Regions from separate parts of the Homo sapiens genome. Here region 1 is linked to region 2. Evidence: fine-mapped expression QTL. A gene starts in region 2. The other region holds a variant in brackets. All regions are shown on one strand. Distances are between the middles of the regions. Region 1 overlaps RAPGEF5 (Rap guanine nucleotide exchange factor 5). Region 2 holds the start of RAPGEF5 (Rap guanine nucleotide exchange factor 5).

The links.
Region 1: its variant is fine-mapped to the expression of RAPGEF5 in lung (TOPMed, PIP above 0.99).

The regions. Positions count from the first base shown.
Region 1 is chr7:22,115,274-22,131,721 of GRCh38, reverse strand. RAPGEF5 (Rap guanine nucleotide exchange factor 5) reads left to right here. Exons shown (of 26, transcript NM_012294.5): 24 at 621-685; 25 at 6,064-6,118; 26 at 9,201-13,486. The coding sequence ends at 9,316. Among named protein-coding and RNA genes, the nearest start is that of CDCA7L, 180 kb to the right of the region's middle. The variant A/G (reference allele first, on the strand shown) is at 10,436.
Region 2 is chr7:22,348,208-22,364,655 of GRCh38, reverse strand. RAPGEF5 (Rap guanine nucleotide exchange factor 5) reads left to right here and starts at 7,502. Exons shown (of 26, transcript NM_012294.5): 1 at 7,502-7,826. The coding sequence starts at 7,596. RefSeq lists silencers at 7,357-7,746, 7,807-8,036, 13,675-13,804 and enhancers at 8,157-8,226, 12,435-12,484, 12,775-12,884.

The sequences.
Region 1 (16,448 bases), 230 kb after region 2:
ACTTTCCTCCTTTTATTTTCATCAGTGATGCTTGCTTTCTACTAGTCGAATGGGGCCAGACATCTTGACTTTTTCAAGCCTGCCTCTTTCCTCACTTATTCCTGGTACACAATCAGACATCAACTTTGGGAACCAAAAATTTAAATTTAAACATCTAAATCTATATCTTAACTAGTTGTTTTAAGTAAAGCAAGTCCCATACACTTTGCCAGGGATTTGTAAAAAGCAAACACATACTTACTAAAATCCTGTTGTTTCTGGGTATTCAGTCCTTTTCTGCTCAGTCTTCTGACTTAAACACATAATGGAATAATTAAGTTATAGACTAGCTTTAGTTTATATTAAGCAGATTGAAGTCAAACATTTCATTATGAGTGCAAAATATATACTTTCAGTAAGGTCACACTGTTTTTACACACACACATATACACACACACATAAATTATGCACTTTTACATCAAATAACACATAAATCCAATTTCAAATTGCCTCTCCAAGTGCATGGAATGATCCATAATGTTTAGGAAAAATGAATAAGTTGCATTGTACCTAGACCTCTTCAGCCCTGACTCATGATCCATTCCTAATGATACATACATCTTTTTGTTTTTAATTTTCAGATGTAACATTTATTCATGAAGGAAATAAAACTTTTTTGGATAATCTTGTCAATTTTGAAAAGCTGGTACGTAAATTTCATTACTTCTCCCTTTTTTACAGTAACAGAAATGTATGCCTTTCTTTCCTGCTCTAGGAAATAAATAGTTTTAGTACTTTTCTCCATTGGATGCATGGCGAATTCAAGGAGCTTATTTGCTTCATTCAAGGAGCTTATTTGCTGCATGTTGTACGCTGCCAACAAAATGTATTCCAATTAACAACAAGTATGTTAGCAAGGTTTTTGTGAACCAAATATGAAAATCTGCGTTTTGTTTTTAAAAATGGAATATGATAAGATGAAGAACTGAGGGTATATTATTGAACCAGAGCTAAAACTGTAAGGCTGCTGTCAGGAGGAATCCACACTCAGGAGATTATGTTTTACTGCTTTATAGGCATCTCTCAGTGTCTCAGCCTGCATGCTTTCAAGGCACAGAGGGAAAAAGTTCCTCTCCTGGGGATATATGTTTGTCTCTCAGGACTCCAAGCTTAAATGTGAGGCTGGAATTTGCAGGGTCTTGTGTGAAGGGAAGGGCCACTCCTTTATCAGCCTATGGACAAAGGGTGCCATCCCTGAGCACCACGGCCAGAGCGGCTCAGGCAAAGTACCCTCCCTCCTTACAAGCAAGAGGTTCCCAGGGCAATCCTCTCTAAATGTTTCTGAACCACTGCTTCCTGAATGATTTCCAGGGCATTCCCAGGTGCTTTGTAATACAGTGGGCCCCTCCAAGCCTTTCTGACTTGCCCTTGAGCAAAGGAGGGGTTACCCATAAGAACTGAGCAACTGTAAAATAGAAGTACTCCAAAGAGACCCACTTGCCTGCAAGAGGAATGGATTTATCTGACAGATGAACTTTAGTGTCATAGAGTAAACTGTCCTTCATGGTTAAAGACGATACCAGTAACCCTGCTCCACAGATCCTGACCTTTGAGTGACCTTTTCAGTAATGGTGATGGATTTGTGTGAACTCTTGCAGAAACTGACCCTGGTTCCCTGTGAGACTGAGTCAGGCACTTGAGAGGAGGTTAAGTGAGGCAGGGACCACAGACCATGATCAAAGAACGGTAGGAACTGATGAGTCCTGCTGAGGCTTGGCACCTGACCTTTGCCTCAGAAGTACATTGCTCTGCTTACCCAGCCAACTCCCCACATGTAGGGTGAAGCAGCTTGGGAACAGTGTAGTTGGCTCTTATACAACCCTTATACAACCCCCAAAACCCAAGCATCTGGAATATAGAATACAGTCTTGGAATATCTTGCTTTATCTCCATTTTAACCACACCGAAGACCATCACTTCACGGCTAGTGCTTTTCTAAGTGGCTCTGTCAATACATTTTCAAGTTTGTCTCTGCAGTAAGTGTTTTGGAATCAGAGCTCAGTTATTTTAGATGCTACAGTCAAACCAACAGAGCCAGAAATGGATAAAGTGTTATTTTTTTGTACGTGTTTTGTGTTGCTGTGTGATATTCTGAAGATCACAGGGCACTTAATGAAAGGCTGCAGGCACTAGAATTCTTGCCTCTAAGCAGGTTAATCCCTGTCGTTTGGGATTAATGAAACAATTGCGGGAATATGAAGCCTTTGGTCAATATTTACTTCGCTTCCTGGCCAACACATCTCCCTAAGAACAACACATGAGATTTGTGGAGCATCTGTGAAGATGTGGGATGAGGTGTGTCACGCCAAGTGGAATTCCCTGGAAAGGCCTAGTAATCCTTTCCCCTGACTAGTCCAAGGGGCCGTGGGAGAACAACTAAACTCTTTATCAGCTGGCTGTTGCCTGTTGTTGAGGGCAGACGTGAGGTTGACCTCCCTAAAGTGAACCAGTGAATTTGTTAAGTTCATTATGTCATTTCCCCCTCAGATAGTGCCACCAAAGTGACAAGATAATAAAAAAAAAACCTGAACAAGTCCATAAAGTCACAAATGGGAACAAGCTGTGGAAAGCTTGTTCCCACCTTCCTTCTGACCAGCATCTGTGGCCCTCCCCTGCTCTCTCCAGTAATCCAGCAGAAGCCTCTTAACGCCAGCTCTCAAATATGCCAAGACTGCCAACTAACCATAGGGCTGGAAATGAAGGAGGTCTAAATGATATGACTTCTATTAGGGTCAATCATCATACCCTTAATTCTTTGAGAAAGTTTAAGGGAATAGCATGGCATAAATAATATTTTAAATTCCTAAAGAGAAATTATATTTTATAAAAGAATGAAGAAATGGGTGCAGTTCAGCATGCACACAGCACTCACATAGCGCACACGCAAGCCCGTCAGGCAGGCACGGGCTCTTCATTTCCTCAGAGGGCAGGCTCCACACCTGGGACTAGTGAGCTCCTGGTCCACAGCATGCCTCATGCTGACCCCTCCTTACACAGAGTAGACAGGATAAAACTGTGTCCAGGACAAAAAGCAGTTTTATGTCATATATAGCATTGTGTTACACTTGGATGCTGGAGAATGAGACTGACCTTTCTAGGAGAAACACTATTTTCAAGGAATATTTCTTAGTAAAGGACTGGGTTTCTCTAAAGGTAAAACAGGATCATCTTTCACGATAATGAACCAATAGAACCTAAGTGAATTAACTTGTGAAAAGTCAATTCCTCATGATGGATATTAACTTAAGCCAGCTAACAGATAATTCAGTGTATTATCTTTATCTGACTGATGCAGGCCAGTACACTGAGTCAGACCCCATGAAAATCCAGAAGCCCTCATCAGGTCTAATGAGATTTCTGTTCTTTATGCTACATTCCTTGCTGCCTCAGCTACTGGAAATGTTTTCATCTCAAACTGTTTCATAAAAAGAAACAAATGGTTTCTTTTCTTCTCTTTATCCCTCGATGTTAAGAGCATCATCTTTTACCCTGTCTACCCCCTCCCCCTTTAGAAAGCCTAAAGATGAAGACCAGAACTCAGGTTTCAATGCCACACCCACTACCCAGCCTTACATCAGTTTGAGCCTTGCACAAGCTACGCAAATGGCATATGATAGAAATCAATGTGACGCCAGAGCTTAAAATGAGAAAACTGACCTGGGAAAAGTGGTAAAATCTGGGGAAGGAAACTGAACAATACATGCACAGACATGAGTCAGGTCTCATTTCCTTTACAAATGCAGCTTGAGCTACTGCAATAATCACTGTCCTATTCAATTTTCCACTATCGAATAGAAGTGCATTAGAAATACGGTTATGACAACAATTCAATCAGTAGGTCATATTCCAATAATATTTCTGTATTTCTTCTGAATTTTAAGTAAGAACATATTTTAGTGTTTAATATTCTTTCAGCAATAATTCATTGAGGGTTTGCTGTATATGGTGATCCTATGCTCAGTGTGTATAGTTGGGACATGAAAGATGTTGACCCAAATTGGAGGCCCAGATATGAATGATATTAATTCTTGAATAATAGGATGATGTTTGTATTGTGATATGAAACAAAGTAGAGAGCTACTGTTGATTCTCAAGAGAACTAGAACATGAAGACAATAGTATTTAGAGATTATTCTGGCAATTAAGCCAGCTAGCATAGCATTTTGGAAGAGAACATACTGCACTCTAGTTCCTCTTATGGCATATACGTATATGCTTCCAAAATGCTACTTCCTTCAACATGAAAAACTAAAAGTGGTAGAGACAGCTCACTCTTGCAAGTACAAAAGTATAAGATGATGGGATCTTGTCCAAAGCAGCTGTACATTTAAGAAGACTTTTGCCGGCCAGGTGGGGTGGCTGATGCCTGTAATCCCAGCCCTTTGGGAGGCCAAGGTGGGTGGATCCTGAGGTCAGGAGTTCAAGACCAGCCTGACTTGAACATGGTGAAACCCTGTCTTTACTAAAAATATAAAAATTAGCTGGGTGTGGTGGCATGCCTCTGTAATCCCAGCTACTCAGGAGGCTGAGGCAGGAGAATCACTTGAACCTGGGGAGTAGAGGGTGCAGTGAGCCGAGATCACGCCATTGCACTTCAGCCTGGGTGACAGAGTAAGACTCCATCTCAAAAAAAAAAAAAAAAGAAGACTTTTGCCTGGGAATCAGTGAGGACTTCAAGGAAAGAAATTAAATTAGAATATTGAAGACTGTACGTGAATATAAACTATGAACAGAAAATGGTCTCTAAAGATGTTGATGTTGGCCGGCCACAGTGGCTCACACCTATAATCTCAGCATTCTGGGAGGCCAATTTGGTTGGATTATCTGAGGTCAGGAGTTCGAGACCAGCCTAGCCAACATGGTGAAACCCCATCTCTACTAAAAATACAAAAATTAGCCAAAATTAGCCAGGTATGATGCATATGCCAGTAATCCCAGCTACTCAGGAGGCTGAGGCAGGAGAATTGCTTGAACTGGTGAGGCAGAGGTTGCAGTGAGCCAAGATCACACCACTGCACTCCAGCCTGGGTGACAGAGCAAGACTCCGTCTCAAAAAACAAAAAAAATGATGTTAATGTTTTAGAAAATGTTCATCTTTTGTCAGTATCTCATTTCCAGTTACAATTTAAGATACTTGAACCTTTGAATCTACAAGAATTCCTACCTCCATTCAGCACATATGTGTAAGTCAATGTGTCTGACATAGTAGGCTCTGCACATCCAAAGCCCTCTGGTGGTACTTGGTCTAAAGAAGGAGAAAAGTTCAACAGCAATGACAGTGACACAAAGCCAATAGGTGCTGTACGAAGAGCAGTGGGGATGTTGAGATTGGAGCCTCTGAGTCCAGGAGGGACATCTCAGAAAGGCTTCATGGAGAGGAGGTGACACATACCCTGAAGTGAAACACATGTGCAAATGTGAACAGGATGACTGGGGCTGGGGGTGCTGCACTTCTCTACAATGTATTTTCTCATGGCTCATAAGAACCTGTGCAACCCGGATTGGGTGCTACTGTTTTTTGTTTGTTTGTTTTTGAGACGGAGTCTCACTCTGTCACCCAGGCTGGAGTGTAGTGATGGGATCTTGGCTCACTGCACCTCCGCCTCCCAGGTTCAAGCGATTCTCCTGTCTCAGCCTCCCGAGTAGCTGGGATTACAAGCACCTGCTACAACCCCCAGCTAATTTTTTTGTATTTTTAGTAGAGATGGGGTTTCGCCATATTGGCCAGGCTGGTCTCAAACTCCTGACCTCAAGTGATCCGCCCACCTCAGCCTCCCAAAGTGCTGGGATTACAGGTGAGAGCCACCTCACCCATTCTGGTGCTACTGTTTTTGCAGATAAGGACTAAATATTCTTTGATAATCCAAGCTCCATAGAATCAAAGCTACATCCAGCTCCAAATACAGTTCTTCTCTTTATTACAGCCAAGAGTGCTAGATTATCCTTCCATCCTAGCAGGCACTGCTTCTTCAGTAACACCCTCAACGACCCTTCCATTGATGTGTTTCCTGTTCTACTTTACAGCATATGATCGCAGACACTGTCCGAACCCTGAGACACTGCAGGACTAACCAGTTTGGTGAGTAATTGAAGTCAGGTGCGGAATGTAAATTGACTCTACGTTGGTACCAACTGTGGTCACAAGTATTGGGTGGTAATCAATTTAAACAGATTGAAAAGTATCATATGTATATACATACGCATATTGTATATATATAGTAGATTGTCTCTTTGTTTCCTCACTGCATGTTGGGGATGCAGAGGAAGACAAGATATGGCAGATTATTATCCCCTCATGGCAGCAAGTTTATGCTGTGAAGAGTGACTTTACACACTCAGAAACCTCCTCCCCGCAACTCCCGCTGACTCCTGTCCCCACAGTGTCTTGCTTTGCTTGTCCATTGGCTCAAAATCACTGGTGAGTTTAGCAGGGGTGACCTTGCCCCTAACCTCTTTGCGTGGAGCCTTCCTGGAATAGGACTATAGCTTGTAAAAGTGCCTAAAGCAGCCTTCCAGAATCTTTTCTCCTCTCCAACAAAAACTTCCTGTCTGGAGCTGCCTTTCAGCTGCAAAAGTGTGGTTCTGAGCACTTTTGTAGAATCCCCACTGAGACTAATGTATGTAGGAATATTTGTTCCTTTTTAAATCTCAGCCATAATTTATACTATGTTTAAATGGTGTTAGAACATTGCAGGAAGGAAGGAAATCAACTTCATTGAGTTGAAGGAGCTTTCACATGGGCAATGGAATCCTGACATCAGTCCTAGCAAATGGGGATTATTAACCCTGTAGGTGTAGAACAAAAAGCAGAGACTCAGAGAGATTCACTTATTTAGCTATTATTCAGACTGAGTCTACCTTACCTCCTCGCCCTCTCTTTTGCCCTCTACAGATCCTGTGGATACAAAGGGTAATAAAAAATAGAAAATTGAGTTCAATAATTATAAATTAATCAAAGGCAACCACTCAGTTCAACTTCATTTTTTAAGTAAGACATGCCCATTGTAAAACAATTTTTTCAACAATATAGAAGTCTATATAAAGTAGAAAATCAGAGTCCTACTTCTCAAGAAAAGTACTGCTAACAATTGAGTACACCTGCTTAAGAATTTTTTTCTGTTCAGTGCTGGTCTAGGCTGGCAATATTGTCCCCCAACAAAGTAAGTTAGGAACTGGACTTCTGTGTGGATTATGTTTTCTCTTTGAAAAGGAGACTTATAAATACAGGACCTAATTTTCTAAATATTCACATCAATTAGTACCACTTTAATATACCTATATAATTCTTCATCAAGCATACAAGCGCAATGCAGTTACAATAAAAATAGTAATCATAACATCATCACAGAGATTCACTGAAATGTATAAGCATAATGCTGATGAGTACAGCTTCATATTGCTTTTATCCTCCTTTGCTTCCCAAGTGTTTACTGGGGATTCAGCTAATTCTAAGATATCAGTCTCACTTAACCAAGGAACTCTAGTTTATATATGCTCCAAGTATAGACAGGAAGGTGATAGTTATACTAACTTGTGTGGCCTTGAACCTGCCTTGAACCTCCCACTCATCAGAGAGCAACCCTCTGTGTGGCACTGAGCAAAGGAGAAATTTAAGTAACTATCAAGCCAGTTGATGTTCTAATATTTATATACAGTATCTTTAAAAAATTGGTTTGGGAACTGAATTATCCGAATTCATTTTAACGGTTTATATGAGCATAGTAAACCAATGTCAGCATTTGGGATAAAATATGAAAATGTTAATCAAGTCACTTATGCATTATAAAGTGTCATGCAAATGTCAGTTGCCATGGTTAGAACCATTCATTGTGCCATCTTTTTAAGGCTTGAAAATTAACATAAAATTACCTTTGTAGCATCGTGTTATCCAAACCAATGTTTAACTTTCTCGACGTCTTCCAGAGAAGGCATTCTGGAATAAAACAGCTTTTTGTTACTTTCAAACAGGTGGGATGGTATAAACTTTAACACCTAGTGTGTTTACTTGCTAAAACCAGGAAGCCTTGTTTCTATTAAACCTAAGAATTATAAGCCACCCATGTCATACAGGTCTTAAATTATTTCCTCATAAAATACATTTGTTATAGAGGAGAAAAAAGGGGGTTTCACCAAGAGAAAAAAATGCTATAAGAAAATGCTCAGCCTCCTGCATTTCCCTTCCCTCTGCTCAAACTGAGCTCCAGCAGCTCACCCTGCCTGTCCCATGCATAATCTACAAAGCAACAGGATATGATGTCTTCACCACTCACCTTTCCATTGTTTTACTGTAGTGCAGTTTGGCCAGTGTTCCCCAGCCTCAAATGGTTTGCTTGTGTGTGTGTGTGTTTGACTGTGGTGCACGGGCTTGCCTCGTGGTTCATGCTGCTTCATCCTGGTTCCTTATCAGCACGGACGCTAGCAGGGTGTGGATGTGTTCACAGTGCACTAAAGCCTCCTTTGGCCCCTCGATTCCTTGACTGCCCTAGATATGTGAGTGGAAAAGCCCCTTGTCTTGTCCTTCTCTGGGTAGACTTTAGTCCATACACATACTTTCTGAAGCTATTTCGTCTGTTAACCACATCTTAGAGTCTGTTCTGTTGTATCTGTTCATTCAGTTGCTCCATTAAATTTTTTTTTCCAAAAAATGAGAATACCAAAGAATTGTACAAAATCTAAACAACAGAAAAAGAGTGATTGCATTCATATGCTAAATACATTATCAGCGATTTTCAACGCTTCTAGACTGAGATATAGGACCCAGTGCTGGCCATTTAAACAGGTAACTGCTGTGAAAGGCTACCTAAAAGGGCTCAGGAACCATCTGTCCTGGGTCCGAATCCTGGCTGTGACAGTTAACTTGCTGCGTGACTGTGCTCAGTTTCCCCATCTGTGGAATGAGATAATAACGTAATTTCTAAATAATATACAATGTTAGGTAATAAATGCTATAAGTATCCTGCCAGTCTGATTGCCTGACCTGAGGAATCCATTCTGAGCTGAAAAAGCATTTCTACTGTAGGACAAGGACACCTCTTATGGGATTCTGACTAATGAGAACCCACCTAGTACATTTACTCAGCCTTAGTGTGGGGTTTTGTTGGTATGTAGATACAGCATTACTGCTCTCCTGAGATTGTCTTTTTTCCCCCTCTAAACAACAGGTGACCTGTCTCCAAAAGAGCATCAAGAGTTAAAGTCCTATGTTAATCACCTGTATGTCATTGACAGCCAGCAGGCTCTGTTTGAGCTCTCACACAGGATCGAGCCTCGGGTGTGAGCCCCACTGCCTCACCTCCCCTGTATCTGCAGCACTTTGAGCTACGGGAATGTCTATGCCAAGCACGTTGCTTTCCTGTGAGAAAAGAAGTTGCTGAGTTTTATCAGTATAACCCAAGACATTCACAGGAAAGCCAGCCAAAGCGTGTTCAGGAAGTGATGTCAGCCACCAGAGAGGGGGAGAGGTTTCTCCATGCTACTCTCGGGACAAGAAGGCAGAAGGAGAGTCAGAAGCATTCTTGAGATGGAGAAGGCTGGTTTCTTATGATCACATTGTTGATCCAGTCCAGTTTTCAATATGAGATGTGCCAGCATCAAGACAAGACAACGTCTTGACATGCAATGACCAAATATTTCATTAAGAGCGTGCATGAAACAGGAAGGAGTTTTTACTTTGCCTAGTTTTAGATTACTGTCCATAAGCTGTCAAAGAAGTCATTCTTTTGAACACCTGATGACAGAGACAGCATCTCTAGATCTCCAGGGAGGAGAGGTTTCTGTTGATACAACCTGTGACATCACCAAAAGCCACTTGTGTCTAGGGAGTTAGTGAGGACTGCAGCTAGCATCCATGCTCTGATGGGCAGATGAACAATGTCAAGGTGTGCATCACTTTGCACCACAATCAACTATTGACACATGCTTGCAGGTGAAATTAGTTTCTGTACAACTGATTTGCAGCTATAGGCAAGGTAGATGAAGTTGCTTTGCCAGTAAGGAAAAATAGTAATCTTTAAGAAATTGACTCATTGTTTAATTTCTGGGGATTTTCTTTATACTTCTAAGCAGGCTCTTATCTTTTATTGGACATAATATGATTTTGAAAAAGCACAGTGCCTGACACATTGCAAACACTCACCAACTGCTTGCTGAGGTGACAGAGTCACAAAAGTCTGCATTCTTGTGCCTGATGATGCATTTTGCGTACCTCATACAGGCTCCTTGCCCACACTATGGAATGACAGCAGCCAGTGCAGGGAGGTTAAGTGACATTTAATGAGTGAAGCACTTAGCACTCTCTAGGTAATAAGATAGTGGTAATTACTAGTGTTTTGGCAAATGAAAAATGCCCTGAAATAGCCAAATGTCTGATTAATGTTGGCAACTTAGAAGTCCTATA[A/G]TCCAACTACCAGCCAAAGCAGGGAGCCTTTCTATAATTTGCCTTTTTTTTTTTTTTTTTCAAAATCTGAGTCTTCTAAAATCTTATTATTCCCATTTTTACCAATTGAGGCTCCTGTAGCAAATAAGACCTCTTGATATTTTCAAGGACTGGTTAGAGGATTTCTTTCAACCTTCACATGAACAAAACAGCCTATGGGTCAAAATAATGAAATCCACCCCTGCCTGCTAGATACTTGTCACCTTGCTAAAATGCAAGGGCCTGGTCCATTCATTTTCCAAATGCAGGAGTCTTGGTGCACTTCTCACTCTTCCTGCCTGTTCATCTCTTTCATGCCCACACAGACCTGTTTCCTTTTTGTCTCATCAACGCCTCATTCATCCTCATTACTGAGGCGTGTCCAATGCTTTTTGACATCTTTATAGCAGTGCTGTTTCCTGGGCTCAGGAACCACACTGAGCTTGAGATACTGCTGGAAGGAACCATGTGGAGAGAAGGTTTGGGAGAACTTTGAGAGAGACTTAGTTTGGCCCAGCATGTAAAACTTCAGTCCTGAACATTTATAGGGTTTTATAGAAGGGCATCCTCCAGGGCTGGTCCATTCAGAGAAATGCTGCATGCTGCCGTCATGGAATGTGGCCCACAGGACACCAGAGCCGTGAGAACCGGAGAGCAGACTTCCCTCACGGCTGGGCTGAGCAAACCCTCCAAAGCCCTCCTCACGCAGTTACTAACAATAGCATGGGCTTACAGCACAAGCACGTGTTCTCACCTTTTTCCTATGCCCTGGACTAAGGTTTGGCCAGTGTAATCATATAAGGCCATCCTGACATTGTTTCTGTGTTTCAAAATTTGGATTTTTATTTACATTAGAACTACATTGCTCCTAGTAGAACATTACCTTTAGGGGACTAATTTTCCATGGAGAACTATTTCAGCATATTGCATGCTGCTCAGACCCCAAGTCAGATATGCCCACCAAGCCAGATGAAGCTACACAAATGTGGTATTTAAATGCATTTTGTACAGTGACTTCAGAGTATCTCACATGACATGGGTGTAAACTGGCTGGGGAGAAAATGATGCTTGTTCACCTCTTCCTCCAGCCGTGGTTAGGTGGTCCTAGGGGTAGCAGAGGGAAGGGAGGATTTTGTGCAGTCAAGATTTGCTTTTCCATCCTTGTCTTCTGAATGTCTAAAATCTCTGCATCTTTCTGAAGTTTAACAACTGTCTCCAGAGGTTTGCCAGGCAGCAGCTCTCAGAAGTTTCCAAAGCTTTGCAGAATCTTAGATCTGGAATTAAAGAATTCAAGCCCGAATTGTGAGAACCAGATATTACTCAACAGAAAGCTCTTTCTAAGGAATCTGAGCTGTTCACTGGTGGACAGTGGTGGGGCTTGAGTGCTCCTTGTTAATAGGATGGGCCATGCACCCTCTCTGGATATTCACCAAGGCCTCTTCAGAATAGGGTTTGTTCTGGCTAGAAGCGTGGTCTAGAAGATGGCTAAGCTCTTTGCCAGCTCTCATTTGGAGTTTTATTATTGCATAAAATCTTCGCTCACTCTGCAAATCTTACGTAATCTGGCACCTTCGGCACCAGGTGGTGCAGGGGCACTTCTAAGTGGGCTCTTTTTGTTACAGCACAACTCTCAGACAGTCCTGTGGGTCTTTGGATTCGTCAGCATTCCAGCAAACTAGCCCTGCTTAGAAGTTAGCACAAGACAGCAGAATGCAGGACCCCGTAGGCAAAATCACAACCTTGCTATTAAAAAAAATTTTGTTTTACATACACATTTGCAGGTGTTCCCTAGAGTGTGGTGTTTTGAATTTGCTCTTTGTCATCTGTATAATTGCCAAATGATTATAGTGATACACATGACCTGCATTCACTTTTTTCTAGTTTCCTTAATTATGTTTAGAATAAATTCATTTCCCTAGACCGAGAACCACAAACAGGTAGTGTGGAGCATACACCGAATTTAGAAGCATGTGGATAAGGTCAGTGCTCACACTGCCTAGTCCACAGGGAGAGGATGCTGCATGAATATATACTTGCCTCTGAGTGGAGGAGAAATCGTGGCATGAAAGAGAGAGTACCAGTGATGACTTCTTATCCCTGGAGCTGGGCTTTCACTGCTACCCATATCCCAGCCCTGCGAGTCTGTTCTAGCCAGCACAGACACCGCAGATCCGGAACTGAATGTTCCTAAATGGCGCAGCCAATCCAGGCTTTTCAGAAACTGGGCAAAAACATTAAAATGGGGACGATCGGGTCTTCCGCAGTGGTCCAACACAGGATTTCTTTTAAATGTTTCAAAAACATGTCCTTAAAATTTCAGCCTGCTTCTTAGCGAGTGGGCCAGTTTTGCTTAAAACTGGTGGGGGGGCGGGGGGGAAGTTTTTAAAAATTGCCAAAAAGTTAGATGCAAATGTATTACTGTATAAAGCAAAGCTGTATATACTAAACATTTTTTAGCAGAGTAATATTTATTTGCATAGTCTATTTATTGTATTCGTATCACACTGTTATTAAATACTGGGATGAAATCAGTGACCTGAAGCAAGAAATCTTGCCTTTTAATGTATCATTAATTAGGGCTGCTGTGATATTGTCAGCTTGCATTAACAATTAGAAGATAGAGAACCCGCCATCAGGGTGTCTACCTAACTTCTCAGGGACTACACTTGGTAGTTTTCCACCATTTAAAGAACTGGTAAATATGAAACATTTGTTGAGTTACCAGAATTGCCATTAACAGTGTTTTCTTTCCCATATTCCATGCTTTCTGCCTCTGTGTATATATATAATATATATGTATATGACTGTGCTGTGTATTTATCGAAGCTAGTAAGCAATAATTTATATGTAAAAATGGCCAAGCAATATAAGGTTAAAACTTATATAAGTAACCCTTACCTTATCTTGTATTTTCAATTTTTTTTTAAAACTGCTTTTCCAAATATGAGACTATGTTAAAGACACTATTCATGCCTCTTAGTTTCTTGCTTTCTCTGTGATGTGTGTGGATTAAATAGCTCTGTTCTGGCAGCATATGATGCTCAGGGGGTTGGAACTCAGAAGTCATTTGCTCACTGAAAGAGCTACAAGTAGATGAAGAGGTTCTCAGGCAGCCCATAGAAGCCTAAATCACTTATCCTGCCATTGGGTTATTGCAGAACCTAAACACCCTATTTTGGAAATTGCATCAGTGTTCTCAGAGTCTGAAATCTGGGGAATCTGGCAACCATTGTCATTGCCTCACCCTACTTGAGCAGGACCAGGAACTGTCCCTCACCAGCCCAGATACTGAGTGCAGCTACCAGCCCAGTGGTGATGCCCGGGGCCCAGGATAGAGGTCCTGACAGCGGAAGAGCCATGAGTGGATGGAGCAGCACAGGGATAATAAGGATGCTCTGGGGCAGTGGGATGCCAGGCGGTATATACACTAGCGCAGACTGAGTGTTCAGCATCTTCTCTCTGTGTAAACAGGAAATTTGTACATCTTGCCCATCGAGGTCAAGTTTGGCCTTTGGCATGTGTCCATCTCCCCCTTGCAGGGGGATTATAAACCTCACCTTCTTGAACCCAGGAGTGGCCCAGTGTCTTGCTCTGTCCAGTGAAAAATGGGGAGACATGTCTGTGGAAGCTTTATGAGGTAGCCTGCACCTGCCATGCCTGCTGTGCTGTGAGACCTGCCCTGCTCCAGATGAAGGCACCCCTGTCAGCCTGGGTCCTGGATCACAGGAAACATGGAGCAGAGTCCTGGCTTGTGAACGACGTCTAACTTGAGTGAGAAATCAGACATCATCACTAGAAGTCTCTGAGGTCTGGTAGTGGTTTCTTACTCAGCAGAATGTAGCCTCAGCTGACTAATACAGTCTCTCAGGACAGTCTTTTCTTGACAAATTGCCCTTTCCCTCCGTCCACTTGTGGGCGGCAGTATTGGCTCAGCACAGTACCTCGTGGATGAAGCCACCTGTTGTCGCACATCCATGCAAAGGGCTTGGCTTTTTATGAGAAATGGGAAAGAAGACCTGAAGATAATTTTCTTGGGTTTTTCATCACCAGGAAGTGGCACTTCTGTGAAACAAGGGGAAATGGGAAGAGAAAACACAAGGGCATTGTCTCTAAGGCAGCCACTGGAAGAGAGAAGTCCTGATCCCTAAATCACTTCATCTGTAGGGGCTGACCCCATGGGGTCCTCCTGGAACCTGGAGAATGCAGGAGATGAAGGGAGAATGGGAAGAAGCCCTAGGTTCCAGCTTGGGAAGGGAATAGGAAAGAAAGAGAAATACCCATTGCTAAGGACGTGATGAGATTTTCTTCAATTTCGAGTGGGATAGCCGGTACTGGGAAGATGCACAGGGCTCCCGTGAACTCAGAAGCCTGTTCCTGTTAGCAAAACTCAAAACTCAAAATGAAACTTCTGGTCCTGGCCCTGGTGCACTAGCAACAGAATCCTACTCAAGGCATGAGGTTGCGTCTGAGGTTTTTTGTCTGAGGTCTTCTGAATACCCCATGAGCCTTTGCTCTTCATTCACTACTTTCAACAAATGAGATTCCTAAAGCATTAGACTTGCTGATGTTCTTTACTGAAGTACTCCTGTTACTGAAGGCAGCAGGAATTTCTCTTGCCTAAACAGAGCCATAGCAGTTCCCCTTCCCAGCACCTAAGCAGCAGGGCTGACTTTCTAGGCAGAAAGTGGCATCCTGAGGACTGAGCTAGTGCAGGGCTCCTGGGGAATGCACTCAGATCCCTGATCCAGCCAGACTCAGAGCTGGGTCCAGTCGCATTTCTTTATTTTGTTTCTCCTGCCCAGGAGAAACTCGGCCTGTGTTTGGCCCCACTGTGGCTTCTAATCATCCATCCTTATCCTGGGGATGGGGGTCTTCCAAGTGTTGGGAATTGAGACAGTACCCTATGGTTAGCTTTATGGGCATTTCTGCCACAAGGTCATGTCACTGCTCACCACGGCAGTCCCATAGTAAACTCTGTAGCCACCTTCTGAGTCCACTGCTCTCCCTCCAGCCTGGAGTTAAGGAACTTCCAAATTCTCCTCACGTGACACTTGTGAACCAGGGTAAACCAAGCCCCCCCTGTCTAGCCATATCATGTCACCATTATTTTCTGCTACAGCCACACCGTGAAGAAGATCTCAACAGGTCTGGAAATCTTCCTCTAAAAGAACAAGCTCCCCTGTTGGGGATTCACGCCATTATCTCTGGGTGGTTCCTATATTCCCAGGTTTCCAACCTGGAAATGGGTGGGTAGAAACGCCAAGTTCTCCTGGTTGGACTTTTCCTCTCCCTGGAAGACCCTGAACAGCAGTCCCAGCCTCAGAGGCTGGCTTGCCCGAAATGCCACCATGGGAAGTAATAGTGTACCCTTGTCTCTGGAAGGCCCCTCTTACTCACAGACATCTGGAAGTTCCCAAGTTGTGTGAAAGTTCCCAACTTGAGTGAAAATCACTTCCTGAGAAAATCCCTCTACTGGTCACCTTGTTCTTGGGGTCCCGACCAAAAAACAACACGACATCAACAGAGGGCAAAGACATTGAAGTCTCAAAAGCAATTAAAGCAATTAGCCCACCTGGAAGCCTTGAGACAGCGGCAAGAGCTGCTGCCCAAGTTCTTCAAGTTCTTTTTTTTTTTTTTTTTTTTTGAGATAGGGTCTCACTCTGTCACTTAGGCTGGAGTGCAGTGACATGATCACAGCTCATGCCTCACTGCAGCCTCAACCTCCCCGGGCTCAGGTGATCTTCCCACCTCAGCCCCCCTAAGTAGCTGGGACTACAGGTGTGTACCACCATGCGTGGCTAATTTTTGTATTTTTTGTAGAGATGGGGTCTTGCCATGTTGCCCAGGCTGGTCACAAACTCCTGGGCTCAAGCAATCCTCCCGCCTCAGCCTCCCAAAGTGCTGGGATTACAGGCATGAGCCACCGTGCCCTGCCCTTCCCAAGTTCTACAGCAACAACAGGGCTGTGGTGTCTCAACTCTCAAGTCCCTTTCAA
Region 2 (16,448 bases):
AGAACAGAGAGGGCTTCTAGGAGGAGCTACTGTTTGACCTGTGTAAAGATGAGTAGATTTCCACAAGCAAAGAAGGGACACCATTGTCTTGGCTTTCTTGCTGTCTGTTGGTTAAGTTAGTTCTCTTATCACCCTTTTCCTCTGTCTTCTTGGGCATTCAACCACATAGATTTTTTTTTTTTTTTTTCAAAAATGTCCTAAGTACTAAAGGGCCTGGTGAATTTGCACAACTGACTTTAAAAAAGAAATTTCCAGGATGGTGGTAGTAAACAGCATATGAAATGGCATGAACAGACAGACTTTTTTTCAAGATTATTAGTGAATGAATAGAAGATGAACTTATAGGGAGGAGCCCCCATCTGGCACCCATGCCTATCAGCCACTGTCTCTGGCTGGAGCCACCAATGCAAATAATATAAAGAAGGTTTATCATCCCCAAGGGGGATATTTGCATGATGCATAGTGCGTGATGTACTACAAAAATAATAGCACAGTGTCACACAGGTTTGTCATGAACAGTCTGATAGCAGATAGTTACATTTATGATTCTTGAAAACGGAAATAAAATGAATAAGGCTTAACATTTTTAGGTTGGAAACATGTTTCCTTATTTTGCTACATTTCTCTCAATTGCATATTCATTCCATAAGATAACATAAAAATAGAGTTAGTATCAAGTACTCAAACCGTTCTGTCTGGCATTCTCAGCAGAGGCAGCACGGGAAGACTTGGGTTTCTCCTGCAAGGATCTGCTTTTTGTTCTCTTAAAATTAAATGAGAGAAGCCACAAAAATTAAATGAGAGAAGCCATAAGAGTCACTGCCTGAAATTCCATACAAATGGAGATGGAAAGTCACCTGCAGCATGTTCTTCAAGCTTAGCAAAGACAGAGTGTCCCTGCTACTCCTCTATTCCCTGAGCACCCTGGTCTAGCTCCACTGTTTACCATCATGATTTTGAACACTGGCATCTCTCTCTCTCCAGTCCTTTCTCTTCAGTTCTAGCTCACCTCCTCTTCTTGCTGGTTGAAGTTTCATCTGGGCACCCTTTAGTTTAGTTGGTATAACTGCTATATATATATATATATACACATATATATATATACACACACACACATATACACATATATATACATATTTATATATACATATTTATATATATACATATATACATATTTATATATATACATATATACATATTTTTATATATATACACATGTGTGTGTGTGTGTGTGTGTGTATGTGTGTGTGTGTGTGTGTATATATATATATATATATATATATATATATATATATATATATATATATATATATAAAACTAAACCCTCAAAAACCAGCTTAGCCCTTGGGAAGGTTGTGCTCATATTTAATCCATTTTGGTGATTACATTCTGGAGGGTTGGCAGGGTTGAATAGAGAGACAAAATTATATGCAAGTTTTCTGTTTTTGAGAGCTGTTAAACCAGTGCAAAACATCTTGAATGGGGGTAAATTTAAAAATGGGAGATGTTGGGAAGAGATGGATTCCAAAGAGGACTTATCAAAGTCCTAACAGCTGTGGTGTTGGGAGACTTCATTAGGCTGATGTGCATTCTATACATTTAAAAGAAGACAGGTAGGCAGGGCATGGAATGACACAAGGGAAAGACCAGCTCACAGATGATTTCCTCAGCATTCTTAGTAATTGTATAGGAACACAAAAATTAAATGAGAGAAGCCATAAGAGTCAGTGCCCCAAATTCCATACAACTGGGGATGGAAAGTCACCTGCAGCATGTTCTTCAAGCTTAGCAAGGGACAGAGTGTCCCTGCTACTCCTCTATCCCCTGAGCACCCTGGTCTAGCTCCACTGTTTACCATTGTGATTTTGAACACATGGCTAGCAGAGAAGGGAAGATGGAGCTGCCATCTTGAACATGTCTAGACCCTAGTTCCTGCTGGCATTCACTCGTGCAAGCTCCCAGCTTGCTTGTCTCTCTCCAGTCCTTTCTTTTCATTTCTAGCTCACCTCCTCCTCTTGCTGGTGGGAATTTCATCTGATCACCCTTTAGTTGGTATAACTGCTATATAAAACTAAACCCTCAAAACCGGCTTCCCCTACCTCTTTGACTTCTCTAAATCTGGAGCCATTTTTAAAATTTTTATTTTTAAAGATAGGTAATATATTCACATGTTCTAAAAAACAAAAAAATATAAAAAGTGGTACATGCAAAATCTCCCACCTTTCCTTTCCCCACGTGCCCAATTCCAACGACTTGAAAAAGTTTCCAGAGTTTCTTCATGCATGTACAAAAATGGATATAAATTTCCATCCTTTTCATTCACAACGGAGTATGTTCTTCACATTTTTTGAGCCATGTGTCCTGGTCATCTATTGTTATGTAACAAATACCTCTAGACTTAGTGGCTTCAAACACTTTATCATCTCTCACAGTTTGGTGGGTTGATGGGGCTTAGCTAGGTAGTTTTTTCTTGAGCTCCTTACATACGATTGCAGTCAGACATCACTAGTACAGGAGTCATCTGAAGGCTCAGCTGGACTGTGTCCAAAGTAGCTCCCAAATTGGCAGCAATTCATGTTGGTTGTTTACTGGGAGCTCAGCTGCCAGATCACCTCCACAGGGCTTCCATGTGGCTTGGGCTTCTCCCTGCAAGGAGGCTGGGTTCTGAGTAGGCACATCCCAAGACCAAGCAATCCAAGACAGCAGGAAGTGGAAGCTGCCAGGCCAACCAAGGGCTATTTACAGAACAGGTGAAGTCACCTCTGTTTATTCTATTGGCCAGATCATTCACAAGTGAAACGGCTACATGGTCTGGGGTATATACCCAGGGTTCATCCTCCTGTGCCAGGAAAATTTAGGACACGAACACACATGAGGGGTTTAGGAGTGGAGGTTTAATAGGCAGGAGAGAAGAGAAAGAAAAACAGCTCTCTCTATAGAGAGAAGGGGGGTCTTCCCAGCAGAAAAGACTGGCTGGTGGTGGATGTGCCGGATTTTATAGTTCGGTTTGAGGAGGCAGTGTCTGATTTACCTAGGGCTCACAGACTGGTTCGATCAGGTGTGACGTTTACATAGCAAGTGGGGAAGACTGGTCGCCCCATGCTAATCTTATTATGCAAATGAATTCTCCCTTTGGCCTGCACCATCTTTTCTGGTCCTCACTGTACACATGGCTGGGAGAAAAGGGAAGTTGGAGCCGCCATCTTGAATATGTTTAGACCCTAGTTCCTGCTGACATTGACCTGTGCAAGCTCCCAGCTTGCTTGTCTATATCTGCAGCTCCACTTTACAGGCTGCTCTTTGTTAGAAAATGATTTGGTACTGCTTTTCATTATAAAGGAAAGTCTTTCCAAGGACTCCCATACCCTTACTATTTGCCTAAGTGATTTCTTCTTAACTCCTGTATCACAAAGTCTGCTCAAATTCAAAGAGATGGAGAAAGAAACTCCATCTCTTTTCGGGGGAGTGGCAATATCACACTGCAGAAGAGCTTGGAAGATAGGAGATGCTGAACTGTCCATCTTTGGACAATACACTCCACAACACCATCTGAAGTATTTTTCTACTGCTCCTATGCCCAAGGAGCCTTCTTTTGTACTGTCTAACATCTAACCCCTCATTTCTGTTTCCATTGCCGCAATGAATTCAGGCCCTCATCACTTTGTAGCTAGCTCATTGTCAGAGCTATCTTCCTGGTCTTCAATTTCGCTATCCTGCCAATAGCCTTAAAATTTGTGTTTTCTTACCATGGGTCTTTACACACACTTTGACTTTGATGATCTCATTCTCTTAAGTAAAATTCAGCTCTGGTACCCCATCCTGTAGGAAAAATTGCAAGTGGCTGGCAAGTGGTCTCGTTGACTTGTGTGGTTGGCACAAATATGATTTACATTAAAAGAAATTTTTTTGGTCAGGCGCAGTGGCTCACGCCTGTAATCCCAGCACTTTGGGAGGCCAAAGCGGGCGGATCATGAGGTCAGGAGATCGAGACCATCCTGGCCAATATGGTGAAACCCCATCTCTACTAAAAATACAAAAATTAGCTGGGTGTGGTGGTGCGTGCCTGTAATCCCAGCTACTCGGGAGGCTGAGGCACGAGAATCGCTTGAACCCAGGAGGCAGAGGGTTGCAGTAAGCCAAGATCGTGCCACTGCACTTTAGCCTGGTGACAGAGCGAGACTCCATCTCAAAAAAAATTTATTATTATTATGGGTAAATCATAGCTGTACATATTTATGGGGTACATGTGATGTTTTGATACAGGCATAGAATATGTAATGAGCAAATCAGGGTAATTGGGCTATCCATCACCTGAAGCATTTATCATTTCTTTGTGTTAGGAACATTCCAATTCCACTCCTTTAGTTATTTAAAAATATACGGTAAATTATTTTTAACTATAGTCACCCTATTGTGCTACCAACAGTAGATCTTATTCATTCTAATCCATTTTTATATGATTTACATTTTTATAAGCTTTCATACTGCAAAATCAGATTTTGTATAGAAATCCAGATTAAACTGTTTGAAAAACTTAGTTCTTATATATGAAATAATTGAATTATTCAACTCATGTGTTCTAGATACTGAACAAAAGAGAAAAGAAGCCCTGTCCTTATGTCATATACATTTTAGTTGTGGGGAGGCAGACAATAGGCAAAATAAATAAAATATATAGAATATGGATGGTGGTAAGCTCTGTGGGGCATTCGGAAGGGGATGAAGAAAGGAATGGATAGGAAAGACTGCAATTTAAAATCACATGGTCATGGAAGGCCTCACTGAAATGGTGACATTTGAATTTAAAAACTGAAGACACTGACTGAGAGAAATGTGGATTTCTAGAACTGCACTATCCAACATGGTAGCCACTAGCCATATGCTGCTATCTAAATTTATATGAATTAAAATTAAACAAAGTTAAAAATTCAGTTCCTCAGTCACCCTAGCCATGTTTCAAGTGCTCAGCAGTCACATGTGGCTAGTAGCTGCAAAACAGATAACAGAAAATGTGCATCATTGTAGAAAGTTCTGTTGGACAGCATTGCAGAGGACTCTCATTCCAGACAGGGCACAGCGAGTATAAAGGTTGCTTGATTTGAGTTAAACAGTGACGTGGCTCTTCTGTGTACACATCCTACTATTCCCTGTTGTTTGCCTATTTTTATCCTGAAGCTAAATGGCATTTGTCATTTATCACCTTAACCTAAACCAATTTTCCAAAGGCCCTTCTTGAACTTTAGACGCTTGGTCTATCCCATAGAATCTAAGGAATGCTGGCCTTGCATTGAGCAACTGTGTGAATGGGTTTGAAGACCAGGAACCTGGACCAGGAGACGGAACACGTGTTCTACTTTGGAGTAGAGTAAGTTCATGGTATGATTCAATGTTGTCATTGGGGTGATGGGGCGCAAGCACCCACTAATCTGAGTGTCCTGGAGGGCTTCTAGTGGGCCAGGTGTTCACCCTTTAGTTGTATGTCATGGGGAAGTTGGAGGTATGGGGGTGAGTGGCACTCTGGGGCTCAAGACAACGACCAATTACCAACTGGAGCTGCAATATCTTAACACTGTAAAAACGGATAGAGTCTGACATGGTAACATACAAATGCAATTTCAGCCTTGGATAAATGCATGTGATAGGTATTTGGAAACTGTAATGGACTATGGAGTCCTATTATAAAGTCCTTTCCAGTTAACACACACAGCTTAAGGTGACAGGGTTTAAGGCCTTCTGCAGTGTGTTACTAGCATCCATTCTGGTATCTTCTCTTACTTCTTCATTATGTCATCTTTCCCTTCACTAGCATGACATATTTTCAGTGCCCAGTGAGTTCTGTGTGATACCACCTTTGTGTTTTTCTCATGTCTTTCTCTCTTTTTTTTTTTCTTTTTTGAGACGGAGTCTCACTCTGTCGCGCAGTGGCGCAATCTTGGCTCACTGCAAGCTCCGCCTGCCGGGTTCACGCCATTCTCCTGCCTCAGCCTCCCGAGTAGCTGGAACTACAGGCGCCCACCACCACGACCGGCTAATTTTTGTATTTTTAGTAGAGACGGGGTTTCACCTTGTTAGCCAGGATGGTCTCGATTTCCTGACCTCGTGATCCGCCCGCCTCAGCCTCCCAACGTGCTGGGATTACAGGCGTGAGCCACCGCGCCCGGCCTCATGTCTTTCTTCCTTACTTGAAGGACACCTACCCTCCTTCTGCCTGGTTGAATCTTCCCCACTCACCCTTAAGGTGCAGTTTAAACTTCCTTCCTTTCGTGGATTTAGCTTTGCCCATCCCAGGCCAGAAGCATTTCTCTCTCCTGTGGCCTGAAGTGGTCTTACCTACACTTACTTGGCAATTAGCAAGAGTACAAGTGCAATATCTTTGTTTTTCTGGATGTTTGTCTACTCCTAGGTTAAGTCTTACCTTCCTTAAGGGCAGAGGTCACAGTTCGTTCCTCCTTTTTTGTTACATGGCATGTTTTTATACATATTTGCCAAGCACCTACCATGTGAGTGGCTGAGGGCACAATGGTAAACCAACTCTGGACCCTGACCTCCTACGATTCTTGTCATTTTTTAAAAATGTGAATAAGCTTATTCAACTTTTGTAAGTCTTAGACAAAGATGGGGATCCCAGCGCCCCACTGATGAGAAGTCAACACCCTGGCTGGCCCTTGTTGAAGACAGATTGAGCTGAGATGTGAACATTCACACTCCCTGGCGTTTAAGGCACTGCTGGAATAGTTTCACTCTCAATGATCCAGAATTCCTGCCTCCTGGAAGGGTGTAAACAATGATTCACACCACGGCAGGCCTTTACAGTTCACCAAGCACATTCATCACAGCAGCGGGCTTTCAGGGAAGGTCAGGTTCTGACATGCTAACAGAGATTCACCTTCAGGTCACCAGACTTGCAGCTACTCTGCTCAACACCTATCATAACCAACAAAAGTTTTCTCCCTTCGTCCTTTAAGGATGCGTGTGCCAAGAAGGGTCGGCGCAAAGCAATTTTGCCTCATGGTGTTTGCCTTGTAGCGTGTCTATTTTGAAGTTCCTTGGCCAAAACAGTTCCCAGGAGTAAAGATTACGATGAGGGGCCAGGCTGTGCAAAACGCGCGGGAGGGCGGACGACTCTCCAGCACACTTGGTTGAAGTCCAAGTCAACCCCTGGCTATTCGAAGAAGTGAAGCAGGACTTTTCAGCCTAAGGGGTAGGGGGACAGGGACAGGACAGAAGAGCGGGTTTGCCGGAGATTCTGGGAATTCTGCACCTGTGGATGAGCCGGTGCCCAAGGTGCCCTCTTCCTCCCGGGTCCCGAGTGGGAGATCCGAGGGGGACAGGTCCCAGGCAGCTTTCGCAGGCGAAAGGGCGGGGCGGGGCGGGGCCCGCGCACCTGGGCGGGGAGGGGAGGAGAGAGGAGGGGAGGGGAGGCGCGCGGGGCTGAGCCTCGCGGGGGCCGCGGCGCGCGCCAATGGGCAGCGGCTGGCAGCGCGCCCCGCGCCCGAGCCGCAGTCGCGCCCTCTCGCTTCCTGGCGAAGGCGCGGACGGCGCGCGGAGGCGAGCGCGGTGGAGAGGAGCCCCCGGCGCCGCAGCGCCGTCAGGGCATGAGGATGGCCGTGGGCTCCGTCAAGATGCAGCCGCCGTGCGAGAGCCCGGCCCTGGCCGCCGCGGCGGCGGTGGTGGCGGCAGACGGCCCCCTGCGCCGCAGCCCCAGCGCCCGGGAGCCCGAGCGCGAGCAGCCGCCGGCGTCGCTGCGGCCGCGGCTGAGGGACCTGCCCGCGCTGCTGCGGAGCGGGCTCACGCTGCGGAGGAAGCGGAGCGCCGCTGGGGGCCGGGTGAGTGGCCCGGCCCTGTCCGAGTGGGCACGGGCGGCGCGCACGTGGAGCCCGCGCCCACCCCCCGGGCCGCTGAGGGGGGCGTCTGGAAGTTGGGGAGGTGGCGGAAGGGACGCCCTTCTGCCGGACTCGGCTGAAGAGGGGCCCGGGACGGCGGGTTTTGAGGTGCCACCCCCTGAGCGACGGCTTCCCCCGCCCCCACACCTCCCCCCCACCAGGCTGCACCTGACTTAACCCCAGGGCCCCCAGATTCAGGCTGCGGGACCGGGCATCGGCTGAAGACGAGCTGTTTGCCTCTTCTCGGAGGGGAAGCTGCAGGTGTCCAGCGTCCAACAGCCAGCCAGCCCTGTCCCAACCGCAAGCTTCAGGCCCCACGAGCGGCATCCCTGTTTGCAGGACGCATGCGACGTGTGTGCTTGTTTTGGAGGTGCTGTTGCAAGCTCTGGGCATCGAGACTGGTTTTGGTGGTCTCCACCGCCGAGGGGCAGACCCAGGAGTCGGAAGCTCTTGGGTGAGCTTCCAGTTCCTGGGTTCCGGTGTCTCCAGCACTTAATACTCCTGGACACCCTCTTGAGCAGGAGGGTGCACGCCCCCAAGAACCTTCAATATTGACTTCCTGATGGTGTGTTCAGATACGATTTCCTGGTGAAGGAGTGTCCCTCATTGAGTTCTAAGTGCATCTAATGACCTGAGCAGGTCAGGCATGTTTTGTATTTTTAAGAGAAGCAGGAAGGTCTGCTGATTGTCTCCTGGGATCTTTAAGAAGCCACCTAGGAGGCCCCGCCAGGGCCTCAGGACACAGAGCTGACTTACTCAGATTTCCCTGCTCACCAGGGTTTGGCGGCACCTTTGGTGGGTTCTACTCATCTTTTAAAAATTTATTATTAAGTGGTCTTTAATGAGAAGCTGCATCAATGTGGTTTTTCTTTCCCGTTTGGCTGTAATTTTTAAAATGCAGTCTTGTCTGACTTAAAACAAGACCTTGCTGGGAGACTTCTAGCTCTTTCAGAGATGGGTTTGTGTAAACTTGAGAGTGAGGGATAACCACTTGTTTTCATGCGCCCTCCTTTGGGTAGGGAAGGGTCTGAACTGATGTCGGTCTTCAGCTTCTCGAGGCTGCATCTCTCTTTTCCTAGGCATTTTCCATCTCAGGTGGAAAATGGTCCATCCCAGGTCCATCTCAGAAGATGTTCTGAGGATTCTCTGTGTGTGATGGGACATTCTTAAAGTCGGTGACCCAGAGAGTTTAGGAATTGCCCACAAGTGACCTTAACATGTGTGGCATTTAGGATTGCCTGCAAAGTAAGTGAGGAAATGTGTCCCCAAGATGTGGTGTCGGAATAAACAAGAACTGGAGTTATAGACTTTGCAGGAATCCAGGGAAAAGTAGGTCAAATTATGTTTCTATTATCCTTGACGGTTACTTTTTCATGGCACAGAATACTGAAGACATGAGGGCTGCCAGGCAGTCTGCGACAAGAATTGCTGAGGGTTTCTGTATAAATAGATCTATAGTATTTATTTGCGTTCATACTCATGTTTCTTGCTGCCTGGGAGGGTGTCGTATACCTTGTCAATATACCTATTTAGTTTTATTTTTTAATTACTCTGAATGTGGTTACCTCAGATAATGTATGCTTTATTAACCCTCTTTGATTCTAATACTGTATTATTTCTTTTTGGGACTTTCCAAACACATTTCGTAACTGCATAGCCAGTTTTTATTGAAGGAAGTTTGATTGTCAGTTTTTCCAGTGTTGGAAACCCATACTTTTTGACTATTTATTTGACTGTTTATTTCCCCTTTCTTCTGCCTTGGAACTACCTTTGTGATTTTGGAATCTTCCCCATCAAAGGAGTAGGAAGGGGGTTGAAAGAAGGAGAAAAACAAGTGAAATATGAACTTGTCTTAGGCAGCTCAGGCTGTCATAACAAAATACCGTAGACTGGGTGGTTTAAACAACAGGAATTTATTTTCTCACAGCTCAGGATGCTGGGAAGCCTGAGATCAATGTGTAGGCTGATTAGGTTTCTGGTGAGGGCTCTCTTCCTGGCCTGCAGATGACCACTTTCTCGTATATCCTCTCATGGCCTTCCCTTGGTAAACGCAGAGGAAGAGAGGGCTCCCTCTTCTCATAAGGCCACTAATCCCATCATGAGGGCCCCACCATCATGACCTAGTCTAACCCTAAATAATTATCAAAGGCCTCATCTCCAAATAATGTCATGTTTGGGGTTAGGGCTTCAACATAAGAATTTTGTAGGGGGCATACACTTAACAGTCCAAAACACAGGGGGTTTGAAAGAAAGAGAGATACAAGTAGAATATGTATCAGACTGGTTGGTTGGTGACTTGTTAGCATCTGGGATTGTCTGGTTAACCACCTTGGATTGGGCAGTGATGCTAATGCAAACAAATCATGGCTTGGATCTTTTTGTAGACCTTCAGCTTTGTGTCTCATGGGCCATACCTCCAGACTGGAGCTGCGTGACTTCAGGGATAAGTTAACAGAAATCCATTACCACTAGTAAAGACACAGCTTTGTGCATTACATGAGTTAGTTGAGTTTTCATCTCCTATATTGACCAAGATCTGATTTAGGAATATGTGTGGTCCTTATCCATGCTGCCCTGGGCTCCCACAAACCTGGACAATCTGACATCAACTGACATTAACAAAGTTCTTTGTGGGTTGTGTTGCTCAACCCAGGTGCATTATAGGCTTTTTTTGTTGTTGTTGTTTTGTTTTGTTTTTTTTCTGAGACAGGGTTTTGCTCTGCCACCTAGGCTGGAGTGCAGTGGTGTGATCATAGCTCACTATAGCCTCGACCTTCTGGCTCAAGCGGTCCTCCCACCTCAGCCTCCTGAGGAACTGGGATACAGGCACACACCACCATGCTTGGCTAATTTTTTTTTTCCTATTTCTTTTAGAGACTGGGGGTCTCACTACGTTGTAGGCTATCTGTTACTAGGAAAAAATCAAACTGCCATTTGGTTAATATGCCTGAGTTCCTTGGTTCCTCAGTTCAGTCACTTCTAGTTGTGTTGAATTCAGCATGCATACTGGTTAAGACTCTTTGCACTTCTTTAAGACAAATGAGGGAAAGACTAAGTTGTACATTGTGGGAGGGCCCTAACTACCTCTTAAAAATCAGTAGCAAAGTAATGCACAACCTGAGTTCCTGACAAAACCCTTTAATTTTTTTAATTGTATAACAGAGATTATGAGAGAATGGTATAATGAACACCTGTGCTTCAACAGTTATTAGCATTTTGCCAGTCTTGTTTCATTTATTTTCCCCCTCCATACACTTTTGTAGGGGCTAGTGCATTTTAAAACAAAATTCCGTACATCATGTTGTCTTACTCACAAATTTTTCAGTTTACGGTCCTGATAAGGACATTAAAAACAACAGCAAAACTTTGCCTTTTTCACACCTAAAATATTAATAATTTAAAAATATAATTTCCATATTCAAATTTTCTCAAAGTTGTCTTTTTACTTATGATTGTTGGAAACAGGAGCTAAATGAGGTCCACATATTGTATTTAGTTGTTAGGATTTCTAATTTATTTTATAACAGCTTCCCCTCCCTTTTTTCATGCCAGTGATTTGCAGAAGAGAGTGGTTCATTTGTGCTGTAGAACATCCTACTGTCTGGACTGATTCCTTGTGGTGATGTTTAGCTTGTTCCTCTATTCTGTTTCCTGTGATCTGGCAGTTAGATATAGAGGTTTGATTAGATATAGGTTCAAAGACAAGTAACCTTCATGGATGGTGCTGTGTAAAATCTATTGCATCACATCGTGAGACGCATAATGTCTGGATATCTCTCTTTTTGAGATGGAAAGATTGATTCGTGAGTTTAGGTAGTGTCACTTAGCTGTCTGTCTTCTACTTAATGATTTTAGTATCACAGATCGTTGTAGCCTAGATCCTTTTCATTAGGGGTTGCAAAATGGTGATGATCTAAATCCATCATTCTTCTTGCATTTATTAATTGGAATTCGGTCTGTAAAGAACTTTCCCTCATAAATTATTTAGGTCTCCTGAAATTCACAATGTGCAGGATAGACAGGGAAAAGTCTTAATTTTTTCCTTTTACCAACTATCAGAGTAATGATTTGGTGCTTTAACAATCTCCAGTGAGAACCAGTGAGTTTTTCTTTTTTAAGTGTCATTAAGAACTTATGAATCTTAATGTATTTGTTTCTGTCACTTCAGTCAATATCCTTTTTGGTGCTTGGTTTATCTTTGTCTCCTGTATACTTTTTAAATGGCCAGTAAACTCAAATACCTTTCTTACTTTTCTGACGCAAGATATTCTAAGTGCATCTTGTCCATAGTCTGCTGCTCCCGACCTGAAACCCTGAAATCAGCCATTTTCCCAAGGAGCATTGATGAATTTTTTTTTTTTAAACTGACAATCGTTCATTTCCCCATCTTTTACCTTTCTTAGTGGTTGCATTATTTTTCCCTTGGTCTTAAGCCTCCTACCTTACTTTTTTGTATCTTTTTAAGTCTTTCTCATCAGGTTGTTTCTAAGACTGATATTTTCCCCCTAATAAAAGAACTGATAACAGCTATTCCCTTTTTCTGTATATACTGTCAAAATGCTGGGACTGACTTATTTTGGGCTTTGGCTGCTGTGATGTTTTCTGCAGCCTCTGCCACTGTCTTCAACGTCTTGGTATCTGTTTCATTTACAGCAGCCAGAATGATTCACCAGTTGTGCCAAATTGCTCACCAAAGACCTTCAGTGATTCCCAGCTTTTGGATTGGTCATCAGAAGGGCCTAATTCTCTTTAACCACCCTTCACTAGCCAGGGTTCTTATGGCCTGTGCTCTTCAAAATTGAGAAACTGGGAAGAACAGCTGGTAGCCCTCTGAATGAAGTTCTCTCTTTTTCTTTGCCCAGATGATTCCGTCTCAAAAAGGAACAAAGTATCCCTTTCCCTTTGTACAAGCTGGAGTGCTTTAGCTCTGACTCAATACCCTCCTCTGCTAGAAACTTGACTTTATTGATTGAGAAATAGAAACCGATCCAAATTATATACCAGTATGCCCAATGTATCGCCGTTTTAGGCACCTATTTTACAGGCAAAGCATGTCATTTATTCTTTGTGTTTAAATTGAAATCAATGGCTAACATCATAGCACTTAATTATGTACCATGCATATTCTGATATAAACTTCAACTCTCACTACAAGCCTATGAGCCTATGAGTTAGATGCTGCTATTTGCATTCCACAGATGAAGAAACTGAAACACAGGTGTAATTTGCCCGAGGTTACAGAGTGTGTGCCAGAAGGGAGGTTTGCATCTATGTATCCTGTTTCCGTAGAGCCAAGTCCATGCTCTGAATTAACTTTAGTTTTCCTCAAATGCATTGAGAGGGCAAAGGGTCTATTTACTCTAAACTGTGATAGCCTTATAGTACCTGCTGATATTATCTTACCACTCTGAGAGAGGTAAATAAATGCCATTAATAATGTCAGACTTTTCACTTTTATTTGGGCACACAGAAGCTTATTATTGACATATTGGGTTTAGGGGAAGTGGGGAGAAGCATTGTGGTTATAGGCGAAAGGTAACTAATGTTTACTTAAATTAAAAATAGCTCAAGATCAGCCTGGGCAACAAAGCAAGACCATGTTGCTACAAAAAACAAACAAACAAACAAACAACTAAAATACAAAACAAAACAGCATCCATGTGTCATAAGCAAAATCAGCCATGCTCACTTGATCAAGGTCAATCCAAAAACCTTGTGAATTCACCCAGCTTACTTTGTTCTCATCTGCTTATGGCAGCCAGAAGATAAAGGCCATTAAGAGAGGCATGCATCTGCCAGGAAGGGTGAGTCAGATCAGATATGAGGGACACATAGTGAACTTATTTGAGAAATATTGACTTCACTGCCTCTGCTTGCTGACAAACTACTATCCTGATCCTTGGTGTAAAACTGTGTTAGCTATGGCTACAGATAAAATAAAGCTCTGTGGATGCCAACTTCAAAAATATTTATTTGGGAAGAAGGAAAAGAAACTGTAGATTCATTTAATTTCGTGTGAATTCTAGCAAAGGAACTCAATGGCAAGTTAATATTTTATTTACTTATTTCTTCCTTTCCCTCCCAACCCCCACACTTTGGTGACATAATTAGATCCCAGGAAAAGACACAGGCTGTGGCTTCAGAGTGGGTTTGAATCCCAGTGCTATCACTTATTATCTTTGCATTAGTTATTCTCTGAGCATTCTGAGCCTCAGTGTCTTCCTCTGTAATGACATACACAGTGGATCAGGTTTTTCCATGAATAGAATATAAAGTGTTGGGTACATTGGAACTTAAATAGTTATGTCCCTGGCAGGATGCTTACTCTATGCAAAAGGACTTTCATGGACATATTTATAGAAATCTAGACACAAACATTTTTGCTTTCATATGCAATGTTGGATTCTATTTTTTAAAAGCACATGATATCCCAACATATAGTGAGTATTTTAGGTAGCGTCTAAATACTGATACCATAACAAATAGGCTTCATTTCATACTTGCACTTTCTCTTAAGTTGATGTGGCAGTAATTGGCAACTTGTGTAGCTAGCAATAGATGGAAAGGTAGGAAATAAGTCATTGGTAGTGACTTTGAGCGCTTGTGATTTTTTTTTGCCTCAATACTGCATAACAATCTTTGTTAGGAGTATAGATAATTCCAGTAATGATATATGATCTGGAAGTACTTTTTGAGAGATCATAAGATTTTATATGAAGATAAAATAGTAAAAATCAATGACTTAATTTGTTGTGGCAAATCATTATTATGGTAAATCATTCGTTAATGGGTACGGACAAGGGAAAATCCACAGATGCCACTGTGGTAGGTCTTCTTCAGATTGAAACCTCCAGAGTCCCCTGAAGGGAAGAGGTATTTTCACCTATGAGGAAATTACAATCCAGAGAGGTTAAAAGCTTTCCCATGGCTAACCATGTAGGAAATAGCAGAGAAAGAATGGAGCCCAGAACTACCTGATTTCAAAGACTGTAGCCTGTCTGCAATATCGTGTCTAAAACTTTGAAAGGATAACAACATATGGTATATTGAAACAATGGATGCAGGAAACATTTCAAGTCTTAGTGTAAAGCACAACTCATTCTCTTTCCACTCTCTTCAGTAATGGCTTCCAGGATCAGTCATTTATTTATTTTTATTGATACATATTTTCAGGGTACATGTGATAATTTGATACATTAATATAATCAAGGGTAATTGGGATATTGATCACCTTAAATATTTTTCTTTTCTTTAGGAACATTTAAATTATTCTCTTGAAGCTACTTTGAAATGAAATGCACAATCAATTAATGTTAAATTATAGTCACCCTTTTTTTTTTTTTTTTTTTTGGATGGAGTCTCACTCTATCGCCCAGGTTGGAATGTATTGGTGGGATCTCAGCCCACTGCAACCTCTACCTCTTGGGTTCAAGTGGTTCTCCTGCCTCAGCCTCCTGAGTAGCTGGGATTACAGGCATCCACTACCATGCCTGGCTAATTTTTGTATTTTTAGTAGAGACAGGGTTTCACCACGTTGGCCAGGCTGGTCTTGAACTCCTGACCTCAAGTGATCCGCCTGCCTCAGCCTCCCAAAGTGCTGGGATTACAGGTGTGAGCCACTGTTCTTGGCCCCTACTGATCTGTGGAACACTGGGTCTTATTGCTTTTTTTTTTTTTTTTCTTTTAGGCAGAGTCTTGCTCTTTCACCCAGCCTGGAGTACGGTGGCACCATTTTGGCTCATGCAACGTCCACCTCTGGGTTCAAGCGATTCTTGTGCCTCAGCCTCCCTCCCAAGTACCTGGGATTACAGGCATGTGCCACCACACCTGGCTAATTTTTGTATTTTTAGTAGAGATGGGGTTTTGCCACGTTGGCCAGGCTGGTCTCAAACTCCTGGCCTCAAGTGATCCGCATGCCTTGCCCTCCAAAAGTTTTGGGATTACAGGCGTGAGCCACCGTACCCAATCCATCACTTATATCTAAGTGTATATTTGTACCTGTTAATCAAACTCTCTTCATCCCCTCCTCTCCACTACCCTTCCTGGCCTCTGGTAACCACCAATGTACCCTCTGTCTTCATGAGAAGGGATCAGTCTTTACTCAGAAGCTTTGGCCATGGCTTGAGCAGAGTAGCTGTCAGCCATCTCCCAGCAATACCAGCCATTGGACAAGAAACATGAAGGTTTGGGATGACTCATCCTAGAAGTCATTGTTTTCTCAGCTCCATAGTACACATCTACTTGGAGATTTATAAGGCATGCAAGCTCCTTTTCTGGCCTGTATGAAAAACTGGAAGAGGTAGAATGAGTTCCTTGTAACCCAGGATTTATGTTTCTGATGGTAACATGCTTGATATTTAAGCAACTTGAGATTAGGAAGTTGGAAGTACACATACCTGTCAAAGTAACTGAACCTATTTACAATAGAATAAAATCATTGAGAATACACAGTATCTTTTAATGAAATTAAATTTTGGTATGTTTACCTTTTAATGCACTATGATTACCTGCATGGAATTACTCTTAATTGTTTTTGTTGTGGGTGGGGGGATTCCAGGCCTTTTT